Linked DNA regions of Homo sapiens: region 2 is linked to region 1. Evidence: fine-mapped expression QTL. Tissue or cell type: whole blood. Region 1 holds a variant in brackets; the other region holds the start of a gene. All regions are shown on one strand. Distances are between the middles of the regions. Region 1 overlaps ORAI2 (ORAI calcium release-activated calcium modulator 2). Region 2 holds the start of LRWD1 (leucine rich repeats and WD repeat domain containing 1).

The links. PIP is the estimated chance that this variant, and not a neighbour inherited with it, causes the effect.
Region 2: LRWD1 starts here. The variant in region 1 is the best candidate, but not a certain one, in a credible set for the expression of LRWD1 in whole blood (INTERVAL, PIP 0.67).

The regions. Positions count from the first base shown.
Region 1 is chr7:102,441,413-102,444,219 of GRCh38, forward strand. All of the region lies in intron 3 of ORAI2 (ORAI calcium release-activated calcium modulator 2), which reads left to right. Among named protein-coding and RNA genes, the nearest start is that of ORAI2, 9.2 kb to the left of the region's middle. The variant T/TTTCTTC (reference allele first, on the strand shown) is at 1,677.
Region 2 is chr7:102,463,612-102,466,403 of GRCh38, forward strand. It overlaps LRWD1 (leucine rich repeats and WD repeat domain containing 1), which reads left to right and starts at 1,373. Exons shown (of 15, transcript NM_152892.3): 1 at 1,373-1,549; 2 at 2,206-2,440; 3 at 2,543-2,659. The coding sequence starts at 1,470. ALKBH4 (alkB homolog 4, lysine demethylase) reads right to left here and starts at 1,252. Exons shown (of 3, transcript NM_017621.4): 1 at 1,103-1,252. The coding sequence starts at 1,225. It overlaps MIR5090 (microRNA 5090), which reads left to right and starts at 2,131; the gene lies at 2,131-2,215. RefSeq lists enhancers at 995-1,644, 1,774-2,300, 1,924-2,023, 2,301-2,792 and a silencer at 1,154-1,583.

The sequences.
Region 1 (2,807 bases):
GCCTGTAATCCCAGCTACTCCAGAGGCTGAGACGGAGAATTGCTTGAACCCGGGAGGCGGAGGTTGCACTGAGCCGAGATTGCATCACTGCACTCCAGCCTGGGCCATAGAGCGAGACTGCATCTCAAAAAAAAAAAAAAGAAAAAAAAAAAACCAGAGGTGGCTCTTGCTATGTTGCCCAGGCTGGTTTTTTTTTTCTTTAATTATTGTTATTTTTTTCTTCACCTTATACCAAGGGAGAAATATTGTTGTTTCATTTTGTTTTTTTCCCCCAAGTATTTTTGACCTGCGGTTGGTTGAATCTGCAGATGTGGAACTCATAGATACAGAGCACCAGCTGCAGTGGGAAGCAAGTGAACCATCTGGCGTGGAGCTGAGCCTTGGGGGAGCCGCAGTGCACCTGCTTGATTAGATTAGCATAGCGCCATCCGGTCAGATCGTTCTTCACACTGCAGGGCAGCCTGGGAAAAATAAGTGACAAATACAAATCATCAGAAACTGTAGCTGAGTCGGGGCAGGGCCCTGGGAACAGGCAAAGGTACAGATTGCTGGGTAGAGTTCGCCCTTTATAGTGTGTCTTCCCTCATTAGAATTGCAAAGCTGTTCCTTTGTCTAGCAACACGTGCTTATGCCTAACCTGAAGCTTAGTTCTTGATGCGTATTCTTCCCCCAACACAGAGAACCAGTGATCCAAGGCCCCACCTCATAAAACCTCTGCATAGGCCAGGCGGGGTGGCTCACGCCTGTAATCCCAGCACTTTGGGAGGCTGAGGTGGGCGGATCACTTGAGGTCAGGAGTTCCAGATCAGCCTGGCCAACATGGGGAAACCCTGTCCCTACTAAAAATATGAAAAGGAGGGCCGGGCGCCATGGTTCATGCCTATAATCCCAGCACTTTGGGAGGCCACGGTGAGCAGATCACTTGAGGTCAGGAGTTGGAGACCAGCCTGGCCGATCTGGTGAAACACTGTCTCTACTAAAAATACAAGAATTAGGCTGGGCGCAGTGGCTCACACCTGTAATCTGAGCACTTTGGGAGGCCGAGGCGGGCAGATCACGAGGTCAGGAAATGGAGACCATCCTGGCTAACACAGTGAAACCCCATCTCTACTAAAAATACAAAGATCAGCCATGCGTGGTGGCACACGCCTGTAGTCCCAGCTACTCGGGAGGCTGAGGCACGAGAATCACTTGAACCCGGGAGGCAAAGGTTGCAGTGAGCCAAGATCGCTCTACTGCACTCCAGCCTCGGTGGCAGAGCAGGACTCCGTCTCAAAAAACAAAAAAACAAAAATTAGCCAGGCGTGGTGGCTGGCACCTGTAACCCCAGCTTCTCGGGAGGCTGAAGTGGGAGGATCACTTGAATCCGGAAAGGGGAAGTTGGAGTGAGCCGAGAACATGCCACTGCACTCCACCCTGGGCAACAGAGAGGGAGACTCCGTCTCAAAAAAAAAAAAAAACATTAGCCGTGGTGGCGCATGCCTGTAGTCCCAGCTATTGGGGAGACTGAGGAAGGAGAATCACTTGAACCCGGGAAGCAGAGGTTGCAGTGAGCCGAGACAGCGCCACTGCACTCCAGCCTGGGCAACAGAGCAAGACTCTGTCTCAATAAAAAAAAAAAAATTAATTTAAATTTAAAAAATGCTGCATAAACACAGTGAAAAATTGCCTTCTCT[T/TTTCTTC]TTCTTCTTCTTCTTCTTCTTCTTCTTCTTCTTCTTCTTCTTCTTTTTTTTTTTTTTAATAGAGATGGGGTCTCGTTTTGTTGCCTGGGCTGGTCTTGAACTCCTGGGCTTAAGTGATCTCCCGCCTCAGCTTCCCAAAGTGCTGAGATCACAGGTGTGAGCCACCTCACTCAGCCCCTTTTCTCCTTTTTTTTTTTTTTTTTTGAGACGGAATCTTGCGCTGTCTGTCGCCCAGGCTGGAGTGCAGTGGCGCGATCTCGGCTCACTGCAAACTCCACCTTCCGGGTTCACGCCATTCTCCTGCCTCAGCCTCCCAAGTAGCTGGGACTACAGGCGCCCGCTTTTCTCCTTTTAAGGTGGAACAAAACCACTTTTTGCAAGCCCTGCCCCTACCTCATAATCATCTTTATTTCCTGTCTTGGAGGCCTCTGTGGTTTGTAATATTTGTCACTTGGGCCATTTCCTTTGAGGTGACCATAGCCAACCCAGGGCCACACTGAGAAAAACCACCCCTCAGCCCATGTTCCGTGGCTACTGGTTTTTGGATACGTTTCACAAGGGCCCCAACTGTATTACTGCTGAGTTGTTTTTCGGCTCTGGTCCACTAGGACTGCCATGTCTTCTTTTTTCTTTTTTGAGATGTAGTCTCGCTCTGTCTCCCAGGCTGGAGCACAATGGCACGATCTTGGCTCACTGCAACCTTTGCGTCCCGGGTTCAAGAGATTCTCCTGCCTCAGCCTCCCGAGTAGTTGGGATTACAGGCACCCACCACCACGCCCAGCTAATTTTTGTATTTTTAGTAGAGATGGGGTTTTACCATGTTGGTCAGGCTGGTCTCGAACTCCTGACCTCAGGTGATCCGCCCACCTCGGCCTCCCAAAGTGCTGGGATTACAGGCACCCGGCCATATCTTCTTTTATCTAGGAAGTGTTCCCTCACCACTGAAAGCGAGGTGAAGAAATGAGCTGCTAAGAGGTGGCAGTTGCTGAAGGACATTATGAAATCTTCATATATATTATTTTATTTTATCTTTTACTTTATTTTTTCCCCAGACAGGATATCGCTCCATTGCCCAGGCTGGGGTGCAGTGGTACATTCATAGCTCACTGCAGCCTCTAACTCCGGGGCCCA
Region 2 (2,792 bases), 22 kb after region 1:
GAGCCACTGAACCCGGCCCAGGTATCTTGATAGATGCTTGGTTTGCTTCCATCTTTGGGCTGTCATGAATAATGTCGTGAATATGAACATGGGTGTGCAAATATCTCTTCCAGACCCTGCTTTTAGTTCCTTTGGATATATACCCAGAAGCAGGATTGCGGATCATGGGTAATTCTATGTTTAATTCATGAGGCATGCCATGCTGTTTCCATAGGACCTTGGGCACTTTTACCATGGACGTTGGGGCAGTCTTCACTGGCTTACCAGCCTCCACACCTTCATATCTGCCCGTTCCCTTCCCAGGATCTTTCTAAAATTCACATTTGACTTCATCACTCCTTTAAAACCCTTCAAGAGCTCTCCAGGGCCTTTGGGACAAGTCCAGCCTGCTCAGCTGATGCACCGGGGAGCATCTGTGATCAGACCTCCCCCCCCCCACAACCTCTCCAGCCTCATCTCTCTCACCTGAGGCATCACCAATCCACCTTCCTACCCCACGCAGTTTTCTGGGTTGGAATGCCCTTGCAACCAACCACAGTCCTTCCATGCCAGCCCAAAGGCGCTGAGTTCTTTTTCTTTTTTTATTTATTTTCTTTTTGTGAGACAGAGTCTCGCTCTGTCGCCCAGGCTGAAGTGAGGTGGCTCGATCATAGCTCACTGCAGCCTCCAGCTCCTGGGTTGCAGCGATCCTTGAGTTCCTTTTCGTTAGTTAACTGGAATTCACTGTCTCCTTGCCCATTGCAGTCCACGGCCTTCAGGCACCGTTGGACTGGTATTCAGCACCCTCGATCGACCCTTTCCGTGTCATCTCCCTGCAGGCCCGTGAAGCTCCCAGCGCCAGACCCGAGAGGCTACGTCGAGGTTTACAGGCAGATCCCCCCAGAGTCCCCGAGGTGACCTGTAATCGAACCCACCCACGTTCCAGCTCCTTCCCCACTCCCAAGCCCGCTCCTTAAAGCCCTCATCTCCTCACCCTGCATCACCCCTACCGTAAGGGTCCCTCACAGGCTTCGATCCCGGCCCCTATCATGGCCAAGCTGGACCTCAGTTTCCCCAGATGCAGAGCGACGTTTGTGGGCGCGGCCCCTCTCCCACCCCTTACCGCTGGGGGCAGCTCCCAGGGCGGGTCACTGCCGCGCTGCCGCTCGCAGATCAGACAGGTCCGGATGCCCTTGCAACCGCATTCCCGAAGGACTTCGGGGGTCTCGGCGGCAGCCGCCGCCATCGCGCCGTCCGCGTGGCCAGTGCGCAGGCGCGGCCGTGGGGGCCGCTGGGAGTTGTAGTCCGCGCCGGGCGGGGGCACGAGGCCTGGGTTCCGCTTCCTTCCGGTCGTTAACGCCCACGGGCTCGCGCGGCGCCGCCTCCTGGGCTCAGTTACCGCGGACGCCAGTGCCGGGCTCCAGGAGACGCAGGGCGACGCCACACGCCGGGGTGGCCGACTGGGTCAGCGCGGGCTGCGCCTCCTCGCCATGGGCCCCCTCTCGGCGCGGCTGCTAATGCAGCGCGGGCGCCCCAAGAGCGACCGGCTGGGGAAGATCCGGAGTCTGGAGTAAGAGCCGGGCAGCGGGTGAGGCTGTGTCCTCGGGGCCGGGCGGTCGGGGAGAAGAGCGGGGACCCTCCCCAACGGCCCGCTTGTCCCCGTTATCGCCCTCTGGGTTCGGCAGAGTGGTCCAAATGTCTTCTTGTTGGGAGATCGTGGCCCCACCCGCTCGCCGGGAGCCCCGAGGGGCCTCATCCCCTGAAGGGAGCCCGGACAGTTAGGGGCACAGCCTGCCGCTATCGTTAGAGGGCCTGGGAAGCACAGACGAGCCCCCGAAGGATCAGGAAGAGCATCCTAGAGGGGGCTAGGATGCCCCCGAGTCCTAAAGTAGTTGCAGCTTTTTTTTTTTTTTTTTTTTTTTTTTTTTTTTTTTTGTTAAGTGGTGTGGAGTCGGGAGTAGTGGCGCGCGCTTCTAGTCCCAGCTACTCGAGAGGCTGAGGCGGGAGGATCCCTCAGCCCAGGAGTTGGAGGCAGCTGTGAGCTATGATCGCGCCTAGGCGACTGAGTGACACCCCGTCTCTAAAAATAAAGTAACGGGGGGATGGGCGGGGCGGCTACACTTGTACGAGAAATGTCAGGTGAAAAAGCCTTCTGAGGTACCCGGGGCAGATTGGTGTAGGGTGCAAAGCCTGCCCGCCCCCTAAGCCTTCTGCCCCCAACTCCAGCCTGTCAGGATTGGAGCTGCTTTCCGAGCACCTGGACCCCAAACTCCTGTGCCGCCTGACGCAGCTGCAGGAGCTTGACCTGTCTAACAACCACCTGGAGACGCTGCCGGACAACCTGGGCCTGTCCCACCTGCGTGTCCTCCGCTGCGCCAACAACCAGCTGGGGGATGTTACTGCCTTGTGCCAGTTCCCCAAGCTCGAGGAACTCAGCCTGGAGGGCAACCCCTTCCTGACGGTAAGTGGGAGCCTCCCACCAGCTTCATACCTGGGGCCAGGACTCTGTTGGGCTCAGGCTCAGCATCTCCTGAGCCACTGCTCTTCACCCTCTCTTCCCCAGGTCAATGACAACCTGAAAGTCTCCTTTCTCCTGCCCACGCTCCGTAAGGTCAATGGCAAGGATGCGTCCTCAACTTACTCTCAGGTGGAGAACCTGAATCGGGAGCTGACCAGCAGGGTAAGGGGATGAGAGGATTATTGTGTGCTTAGGAGCTGTGGGGGCATTGGGAGAATGATAGAATTGGACATCAGGAGGATGTTGAGGAGGGTGACTGATAGAGGCTCTTTGCCCCAACAGCCCCTAGCCTGAT